2 separate regions of the Homo sapiens genome follow, and region 1 is linked to region 2. Evidence: fine-mapped expression QTL. A gene starts in region 2. The other region holds a variant in brackets. All regions are shown on one strand. Distances are between the middles of the regions. Region 1 has its middle 15 kb from the start of RPL11. Region 2 holds the start of PITHD1 (PITH domain containing 1).

What was found. PIP is the estimated chance that this variant, and not a neighbour inherited with it, causes the effect. A credible set is the group of variants that fine-mapping cannot tell apart.
Region 1: its variant is the best candidate, but not a certain one, in a credible set for the expression of PITHD1 in whole blood (TOPMed, PIP 0.59).

What each region holds. Positions count from the first base shown.
Region 1 is chr1:23,703,660-23,709,036 of GRCh38, forward strand. No RefSeq gene overlaps it. Among named protein-coding and RNA genes, the nearest start is that of RPL11, 15 kb to the left of the region's middle. The variant A/C (reference allele first, on the strand shown) is at 2,059.
Region 2 is chr1:23,775,894-23,781,270 of GRCh38, forward strand. PITHD1 (PITH domain containing 1) reads left to right here and starts at 2,525. Exons shown (of 6, transcript NM_020362.5): 1 at 2,525-2,820; 2 at 3,545-3,588; 3 at 3,971-4,048. The coding sequence starts at 2,623. ELOA-AS1 (ELOA antisense RNA 1) reads right to left here and starts at 2,404. Exons shown (of 4, transcript NR_038280.1): 1 at 2,306-2,404. RefSeq lists enhancers at 1,249-2,201, 3,455-4,654 and silencers at 2,455-2,764, 2,855-2,904.

The DNA of each region.
Region 1 (5,377 bases), 72 kb before region 2:
TATAATATATAAATATATAAATACATATATAATATATAAATATATATTACATAAATACATATGTAATATATAAATATATATTACATAAATACATATATAATATATAAATATATATTACATAAATACATATATAATATATAAATATATATTATATAAATACATATATAATATATAAATATATATTATATAAATACATATATAATATATAAATATATATTATATAAATACATATATAAAAATATATATAAATACATATATAATATATACACAGATTCCTGAACTCTTCTCAGAAACTTGGTTTTTGTAGGGCTCAAGAATTCACATTCTTACAACACTGAAGGTTGAGAATCATTGTTTTCTCAACAGCAGTGGCTTTCAAAGGTTTTTGACTACAGTTCACAGTAAAAAAAAAAAAATCCCTTCAGAGTAGCGGAAGGGCAAAAAATGTATTTTGTATATCACTACATACATATATACTCACCTCTGGAAAAAGCTTCATGAAACAACCTTACTACAGGTAATGCAGTCCTATTGTATAGTTGTTTACTTTTTTTTCCTAATGCTGATCTCTCTCTCTCTCTTATTTATTTATTTATTTTTTTGTTTGTTTGTTTTTAGACAAGGTCTTGCTTTGTTGTCCAGGCAGGAATGCAGTGGTGTGATCTCAGCTCACTGCAACCTCTGCCTCCCAGGTTCAAGCGATTTTCCTGCCTCAGTTTCCTTAGTTGGGACTACAGGTGTGCATCACCACGCCCGGCTAATTTTTGTAATTTTAGTCGGGTTTTCAGCATGTTGGCCAGTCTGGTCTTGAACTCCTGATCTCAAGTGATCTGCCCGCCTTGGCCTCCCAAAGTGCTGGGATTACAGGTGTGAGCCACAGTGCCCGGCCCCTAATGCTGATTCTAACCCATTGTATTAGTCTGTTTTCACACTGCTATAAAGAACTACCTGAGACTGGGTAATTAAGAAAAAGAGATTTTAATTGACTCATAGTTCCGCATGGCTGGGGAGGCATCAGGAAACTTAAAATTATGGTGGAAGGGGAAGCAAGGCATGTCTTACAGGGTGGCAGGCGAGAGAGAGCACAAAGGGTGAAGTTTTAAACCATCAGATCTCTGAGAACTCTATCACGAGAACAGCATGGAGGAAACCACCCCCATGATCCAGTCACCTCTCACCAGGTCCCTCCCTCCACACGTGGGGATTACAATTTGAGATGAGATTTGGGTGGGGCACAGGGCCAAATCATATCACCTATTAAGGAGCTTGTTTTTTGTGACAGGGACTTGTTCTGTCACCCAGGCTGGAGTGCAGTGGTGTGTTCACAGCTCACTGTAACCTCTAACTGGGCTCAAGTGAGCCTGCCTTGGCTTCCCAAGGTGCTGGAATTATAGGCATGAGCCACTACGCCCAGCCCAGTAAGTAGATTTTAATCCGCAATTTGAAAAACGCTGCAGTGTGTGATGTGTTGATCAAGTTTCAACCACAGAGGCAGAAGTTCTGAGCTAGAAGAGCCCTCAGAGGTCATTTAATCCACCAGTCCTTAAGCCTTGCACAGTACTGGGCTGGGTATAGGAGAATCACCTGAGATATTTGTTTAAAATGTGCATTCCAGGCCCCAACTCCCGAGAACTTAAAATGGAACAAAGGACTCTGTTTAAAGTTTAACGAGCTTCCTAGGTGAGTTGTATGCACAGCCAGATTTGGGAGTTCTCCAATGCAACCCTTACCAGTAAAGGCCCTCCAGAATGGTGGAGGGTTTGAATTTGCCTCTGCTGTGTGGAGGGCAGGCTTTCTCAGTTTGAAGTAACACCTTCAGGTTACTTAGGAAATACAATTATTTACCTGATACTTTGTTTAAAAGTTATAAAAGAACTCTGTTACTACTGAATTTGCAGGTTTGACATGTTTATTGTATTACTTTCTAGTATACTAAAATAAAGATGTAACTGTTTAAAAAATGTGACTGGCTGGGTGTTGTGGCTCATTTGGAAGGATTGCATGAAGCCAGAAGTTTGAGACCAGCCTGGGCAACATAGCAAGACCCCCCATTGCTAC[A/C]TATTTTTTTATCTAAATTAGCCGGCTGGGTGAGGTGGCTCACGCCTGTAATCCCAGCACTTTGGAAGGCTGAGGCAGGTGGGTCACCTGAGGTCAGGAGTTTGAGACCAGCCTGACAAATATGGTGAAACCCCGCCTCTAATGAAAATACAAAAATTAGCGGGGTGTTGGCAGGTGCCCGTAATCCCAGCTGCTTGGGAGGCTGAGACAGGAGAATCGCTTGAACCCGGGAGGCAGAGGTTGCAGTGAGCCGAGATTGTGCCATTGCACTCCAGCCTGGGTAACAGAGTGAGATTCCATTTCAAACAAACAAAAATTAAAAATAGGCCGGGCGTGGTGGCTCACGCCTGTAATCCCAGCACTTTGGGAGGCCGAGGCAGGCAGATCACAAGGTCAAGAGATCAAGACCAACCTGGCGAACATGGTGAAACCCCATCTCTACTAAAAATACAAAAAAATTAGCTAGGCGTGGTGGGCGCCTGTAGTCCCAGCTACTCAGGAGGCTGGGGCAGGAGAATAACTTGAACCCGGGAGGCAGAGGTTGCAGTGAGCCAAGATTGCGCCACTGCACTCCAGCCTGGGTGACAGAGTGAGACTCTGTCTCAAAAAATTAAAAATAAAAATAAAAATTAGCCAGGTGTAGTGGTGCATGTCTTTGGTCCCAGCTACTTGGGAGGCTGAGGCAGGAGGATTGCTTGATCTCAGGAGTTGAAGGCTGCAGTGAGCTGTGATCACACCACTGCACTTCATCCTGGGTAAGAGTGGGACACCTGTGTCTTAAAAAAAATAAAATAAAAAGGCCAGGCACGGTGGCTCACGCCTGTAATCCCAGCACTTTGGGAGGCTGAGGCAGGTGGACTGCTTGAGCTCAGGAGACCAGCTTGGGCAACATCAGTGAAACCCTGTTTCTACCACAAAAATTAGCCAGGCAGAGGCCGGGCATGGTGGCTCATGCCTGTAATCTCAGCACTTTGGGAGGCCGAGACGGGAGGATCATCTGAGGTCGGGAGTTCGAGACCAGCCTGACCAACATGGAGAAACTCCATCTCTACTAAAAAAAAATACAAAATTAGCCGAGCGTGGTGGCACATGCCTGTAATCCCAGCTACTAGGGAGGCTGAGGCAGGAGAATCGCTTGAACCCGGGAGGCGGAGGTTGCGGTGAGCTGAGATTGCGCCATTGCACTCCAGCCTGGGCAACAAGAGCGAAAACTCCATCTCAAAAAAAAAAAAAATTAGCCAGGCATGGTGGCGGGTACCTATAGTCCCAACTACTGCAGGAGAATTGCTTGAACCTGGGAGGCAGAGGTTGCAGTGAGCCAAGATCACACCACTGCACTCCAGCCTGGGAGACAGAGCAAGCAAGCCTTTGTCTCAAAAAAAAAAGAGAAAAAACAAAAAGAAAAATTTTTTAAAAGTGTGTCCACGGCCGGGCGCGCTGGCTCATGCCTGTAATCCCAGCACTTTGGGAGGCCGAGGCGGGCAGATCACCAGATCAGGAGATCGAGACCACCCTGGCTAACACGGTGAAACCCCGTCTGTACTAAAAATACAAAAAAAAATTAGCCGGGCGTGGCGGCGGGCGCCTGTAGTCCCAGCTACTCGGGAGGCTGAGGCAGGAGAATGGTGTGAACCTGGGAGGCGGAGCTTGCAGTGAGCCGAGATCGCACCACTGCACTCCAGCCTGGGTGACAGCGCGAGACTCCATCTCAAAAACAAAACAAAAGTGTGTCCACTAAAGTCACTTATCCAGTAACTTTTTTTTGAGCGTCTACCATGTGCTGGGCACTGTTTAAGGGGCATAGGATACATCAGTGAACAAAGACAAAGATCCCTGCCTTGGAGCTTACATTCTAATGGAGGGAGACAGACAATAAGCAATCCACGAGTAAATTACAGAGAATGTTATAGGATGGTATGTGTGTTGGGAAAAGAAAAAGTAGAGTGGGGTGAGGGGGTGAGGAAAGGCTGGTCAGAGGAGGCCTCACTGAGAAGATGAGATTTGAAGTGGGTAAGGGTTGGGCACTTGGATCTGTGAGGAGGAGCTTTTGGAGAGATGGAAGACTAGAGCAAAGGCCTTCAGGCAGAGGTGCGTTATAGCACTGAGCCCACTACAGCCAGGCAGTGTGAGAGGGCAAGAGGAGGAGGGGGTCAGAGATGATGGGCAGCCGCTGTGCAGGCTGTGTAGGGTGTTAGAAAGACTATGGCCTTTACTGGGAGCGAAATGAATCACTCCTTGCTAGGTTGGCAGAGGCATCACATGATCTGACTTCCATTTTAAAACTGTAACTGCATATTAAAAACAGAATATGGGGGGTAAGGGTGGAAGCAGGAAGACTTATCAGAAAGTATTGTCAGCTCAGTGCTCTTGTGCAACTGTAGTCCTATCTGCTTGGGAGGCTGAGGCAGGAAGATGGCTTGAGCCCGGGAGGTTGAGGCCAGGCATTCATGCTGGTCCAGACGTCGTGGCAGCATTGGAGGTGGTGAGACATGGGCAGATGATAGATACATCTTGAAGGTAAACCAGCAAGATTTCCATGGACAACTGGATGAAAGATAAGAGAGAAAGTGAAGTTGAGAATGACTCAAGTTTCTGGCCCCTAGCAAAAGAAGTATGGAGTTGCTGTTAATTTCGATGGAGAAGGTAGCATGGAACAGATTTGACAGTTAGGAATTCCATTTTGAACATGCGTAACTTAAAATCTATCATCTAAAGGAAGATGTTGAGTAGGCATTCTGGAGGCTGGTCTGCAGATATCTGTTTGGAGGTCTTCAGCATAGGGAGGTCCGTATTTACAGTCTTGAGACTGGATGAAGTCATAGGGGAGTGAGTATGACAGAAAGGGAAAAGGACCCAGGACTGAACCTTAGGGTACTTAAGCATTAAGAGGCCTGAGAGGCGGCCGGGCACAGTGTCTCACACCTGTAATCCCAGCACTTTGGGAGGCCAAAGTGCGAGGATTGCTTGAGGCCAGGCATTCGAGACCAGCCTGGGCAACATAGCAAAGCCTCATAGTGAGTCTCTATTAAAATTGTTTTAAAAAAACTAGCCAGGCATGGTGGTGCATACCTGTAGTCCTAGCCACTTGGGAGGCCAAGACAGGAGGATTGCTTGAGTCCAGCAGTACAACACTGCACTGAGCTGAAATCACACCACTGGACTCCAGCCTCAGCAAAAGAACAAGACCCTGTCTTGGCCGGGCGCAGTGGCTCACGCCTGTAATCCCAGCACTTTGGGAGGCTGAGGCGGGCAGATCACAAGGTCAGGAGATCAAGACCATCCTGGCTAACACGGTGAAACCCTGTCTCTACTAAAAATA
Region 2 (5,377 bases):
CTCTTTTTTTTTTTTTTGAGATGGAGTCTCGCTCTGTCGCTCAGGCTGGAGTGCAGTGGCACAATCTCGGCTCACTGCAACCTCTGCCTCCTGGGTTCAAGCGATTCTCCTGCCTCAGCCTCCCGAGTAGCTGGGATTACAGGCACACGCTACGATGCCTGGCTAATTTTTCTATTTTTAGTAGAGACGGGGTTTCACCATGCTGGCCAGGCTGGTCTCAAACTCCTGACCTCAAGTGATCTACCCGCCTCGGCCTCCCAAAGTGTTACAGGTGTGAGCCACCACACCTGGCTGTACCTAGCTCTTAAAGTTCATGTGACAATTAATTGAGATGAACTACATAATGTGCTTAGCACACAGTGCTCAAATAAATCATTAATGAAGGCAACAGGAAAAAGCCAAAATGAGTAGATCTCCGGGGTAAGGCCTGAGTTGGTTCTTCAAAAGGACACTCTTACCAAAGAAAGGCTACCAAGTATATCAGTCAAGTAAACATTTACTGTTTGCCACATTCCAGGTCCCTTACCTGAAACTGTGACCTAAAAGCAGGAATAATTCACGGCACTGAGCTATTTTGAAACAGAACCAAGCTTGCTTATTGCACAAGTAACTAAAATAGGACATCAAAATATTTTTCTTGTTTTTATTTTTTTGAGACAGTCTTGCTCTGACACCCAGGTTGGAGTGCAGTGGTATGATTACAGCTCACTACAGCCTCACCCTCCCAGGCTCAGGAGATCCTTCCACTTCAGCCTCCCAAATAGCTGGGACCACAGGCATGAGCCACCATGCTGGGCTAATATTTTTAATTATTTTTGTAAAGATGGGGTCTCCCTATGTTGCCCAGGCTAGTCTCAAACTCCTGGGCTCAAGTGATCCTCCCACCTTGGCCTCCCAAAAGTGCTGAGATTACAGGCATGAGGCACTGCATGTGGCCCAGAAAATATTTCTGAATGGAACTTGAAAAAATGGATATTTTGGTCTATACTTCACCAGCCCCACTGAGCACTCCAGAGCCAGATGTGAAGGGAAGAGGGTAGCCAGGGTATCCCATAACTCTCTTTCTGTATCCTGTCTTTTCCCCACCAGGGAGTAGGAAAACATTCTATCCTGAAAACAAGATTATTTCACCTCTAAACAGTGACTTTTAATTATTTTGATCTCAACCCACAATATGAAAAACACATCATATTGTGTCTGAATACAAACTCAAAACTGAAACAAAAGTTTCATCAATTGAGACTTGAAATGTGTGATACATTCTGGGTTTTTTTTTTTTTGTATTCTATTTTTTTTTTAAATGTTGATCACAATTCTCTATAAACGGATTTTAAAACCTATTGACAGGCCACAACCAGCTGTTCGAAAAAAAGTACTTTGAAATATCACATGGGGGAGGAAACGCAGAGATCATCTAGTCCAATCCCTTCACTTCACAGGGGGTAAACTGAGTCTCAGAAGATCAAGTCACTTGCCCAAGGCCACGCAGCTAGTAAGTTGCTGTGGTTGGATTTGACCGTAATAACCATCGGCTACTGAATGCCCATCATGTGTCAGCCATTTGCTGAGTTTTTTCTTTTTTTTTCTTTTTGAGACAGAGTCTTGCTCTGTCGCCAGGCTGGAGTGCAGTGGCGCGATGTCGGCTCACTGCAACCTCTGCCTCCCGGGTTCAAGCGATTCTCCTGCTTCAGCCTCCCGAGTAGCTGGGACTACAGGCTCGCGCCACCACGCCTAGCTAATTTTTGTATTTTTAGTAGAGACGGGGTTTCATCATGTTGGCTAGGATGGTCTCGATCTTTTGACCTCGTGATCCGCCCGCCTCGGCCTCCCAAAGTGCTGGGATTACAGGCGTGAGCCACCGCGCCCGGCCTGCTGAGTTCTTTAATTGCATTATTTCATTTAATACTCACTGTGATCCTATGAAACAGATACTATTCTTTCCACCTTACAGACGGGGAAACGGAGTCTCAGAATAGGGGAAATGACTTAAGGTGTCACAATGGCCAGTAGCAGACCCAGGAGTAGTCTTTAGGTCTGGCCGTGCACAAAGCCCCATGCTCTCAAGCTGTAACCCCGCTATCAAGAAAGTGGTTATGCAAGTGGGCCTGTGAGCTCTCAACGTCTAAGCCGTGCGCATGTGAGACAGCGATAAGCTCGCGTTCTCCAGTCTCCAGGGCCTTATCATTCCTCACGCTTTCCTTCATCGGCTCGCAAAGAAACGTGGCGATCAAGGAAGACAGCGAAGGCTCCATCCTCGTCGGGGGAGGATAATTCGAATCTCAGCCTGTGAGTTTACTCAGCACACCTGTTTAATCTCTTGGTCCTTCAGTTTCCACACCTAGGAAGCTGGAACAGCAGCAGCATCCAGCGCCAGGACTGGAGTCATATACGAACTCTGGCACCTGGGAGGCGCGCGTCCTACGTCAGTTCCGCTCGACCCCACCCCCCCCGCCCCCCCGCCTTCTCCCCACGCGCATGCGCCGCGCAGCGGCGCTTTTTACGACGCGGCAGGCGCGGCGCGCTTAGTTGCCGGAGCTGAACGGCGCGGAGCTGGTCTGAGGCGAGCCGAGCCGAGCGAGCGCGGCGGTGGGGCCGAGAGGACGCGCAGGTGGCGGCGTTGCCATGTCGCACGGTCACAGCCACGGCGGGGGTGGCTGCCGCTGCGCCGCCGAACGGGAGGAGCCGCCCGAGCAGCGCGGCCTGGCCTACGGCCTGTACCTGCGCATCGACCTGGAGCGGCTGCAATGCCTTAACGAGAGCCGCGAGGGCAGCGGCCGCGGCGTCTTCAAGCCGTGGGAGGAGCGGACCGACCGCTCCAAGGTGGGCCGCCTGGGGCTTGGGGCGGGCGGGGCAGGGTGCGTGTGGGGCCTCGGGCCGTCGGTCTACTCATTTCTGATGTTAAGAATAACGACAGCCTGGTTGCCAAGCGCTTTTCCGTGCCTGTCTCCTGCCAGCTCTTTGGGAGGCGAGCAGCGTTGTCTCCCCATTTTGCATATAGGGAAACTGAGGCCTAGAGGGAACGGGGACAGTTTTGTCAAGCTACACAGCCTAACGCTCTATTCCAGGGCTGTGTGGGCTAGAGAGGATGGTCGTGAGGGCCGTTGGACCATTGGTGCTAATGGCTGCCTCATCATATTACCTGGTGAAGATGAGCCTAGGGAGATGAAAGGTGGTTCCCATATAGAGCAAATGTTCTTTACATTGTGGGGTCGCAGGCCCCTTTGCTATCTGTTTGAAAGCAGTGGACCTTCTTCTCAGAAAAATGCACATAAACACCTGCCTTTCAGTTCACACTTCAGAAGGCTCTTCGACCCTGGAAATTCATTCATGGGCTTTTTGTTAAGAACCTTCCAGTTGGGTGGCCTGTGGCTGTTATGACACTGGATAAGACTGGTTAGCTTCAAGTTAATAAGTCTTGGAAAACCAAGGGAGAGTGACTCTTCCCATTGCACCCCAGTTGTAGAGCAGGGTGGGAGATGCCTGAAATTGTAGGCTCTCAGCAAATATTTGTTGCTTTCTCCTCCCCCCTCCCCATCCCCTCCAGTTTGTTGAAAGTGATGCAGATGAAGAGCTTCTGTTTAATATTCCGTAAGTATCTCCTTGGTGCCTACCTCAGGCTAAATAGGCTGTACCCAGTTGCCTCAGATGGATTCATTCACTGGTGTCAAGAGCACACATTTGCTTCTAGAAATGGGATAAATTACTTTGGTGGGTTTGAGGAGGAAAGCATCATAGCTTTCTTGGTGCAGACTGGAAACAGATGTATTTGTAGAACAATAACTGAGAAATTGAGGTAGATTTCTTAGAATTGTAGAATGCTAGAGGTAGACAGGATCTTAGAAATTATCTAGTACAAGTTGACAGATGAGTAAACTGAAGCCCATACAGGGGAAGGGTCTTGCCCAGGGTCACACAACTAAACAGGTATTCAAACTCAGGTTTGACAACCTTCTCTTTTGCATTCTGGCAGATTTACGGGCAATGTCAAGCTCAAAGGCATCATTATAATGGGAGAGGATGATGACTCACACCCCTCTGAGATGAGACTGTAAGTGGCAAAGGCTTAGGCCCTCAAAGGAGCTCCTAATTCTCTTTTTCTGGTAACATTTTATTCCAGAATAGTATCATTTTCTTCTTACCGGGTTTAATATTTCCCCTTTTAAAATATCTTGGTCCTGTTCTCATTCTGCATTGGAATACATATATTTCTTCCTGAATTAATGACTTTTTTAGATTAAGCATCTTTAGGCCCAACAGCGTGTCTCATATTTCAAAGTGCTTACTATGACATGATTCATTCAGAGAGCATTGTGTAAATGTCACTTGTTGATGACTCTGCAGTTTTCTTAATAACTAGCTGCAGATCTCATATGATCTTTATGGATTCTAGGGGTTAGCTTCAACATTTTTCCTTGCTATTTCATACAGTAATGATCTTATGTGTTTTGTTGACATGGAATTGCTCCACCTGACTTTGCGTGGCATTTAGTTAGCAAAGTTGTGTATACCTCTTGCAACACTGAATCTTTTGCCACCAGAGCTAGTACCCTTTTTGACAACTTACCTTATTCCAGAACAGCCTTCCTAAAAGAAGGGGAAAACTGCTTTCTGAGTGCTGGAGAAACATATAAGAAGAACTTTACATTTAAAAAATTCAGTCCGGGTGCAGTAGCTTATCTCACAAAACCAATAAAAGATGATATATAGGCTGGGCACAGTGGCTTACACTTGTAATCCCAGCACTTTGGGAGGCTGAGGCGGGCGGATCACCTGAGGTTCGAGACCAGCCTGGCCAACCTGGTAAAACCCCGTCTCTACTAAAAAAACAAAAATTAGCTGGGCCTGGTGGTGCGTGCCTGTAATCCCAGCTACTAGGGAGGGTGAGGCAGGAGAATTGCTTGAACCTGGGAGGCGGAGGTTGCAGCGAGCCGAGATCTCGCCACTGCACTCCAGCCTGGATGACAGAATGAGACCCCATCTCAAAAGTAATAATAAAAACAAATAAATAAAAAATTCAAATCCTAAAGGCCGAGCATGGTGGTTCACACCTGTAATCCCAGCACTTTGGGATGCCGAGACTGGTTAGGAGTTCAAGACCAGCCTGACCAAGATGCTGAAACCCCGTCTCTACTAAAAATACAAAAATTAGCCGGGCATGGTGGCACACGCCTGTAATCCCAGCTACTTGGGAGGCTGAGGCAGGAGAATCGCTTGAACCCAGGTGGCAGAGGTTGCAGTGAGCCAGGATCGTGCCACTGCACTCCAGTCTGGGTGACAGAGCAAGACTCCATCTCAAAAGAAAAAAATAATTCAAATCCCAGCACTTTGGGAGGCCGAGGCGGGCGGATCACTTGAGGCCAGGAGTTCAAGATCATCC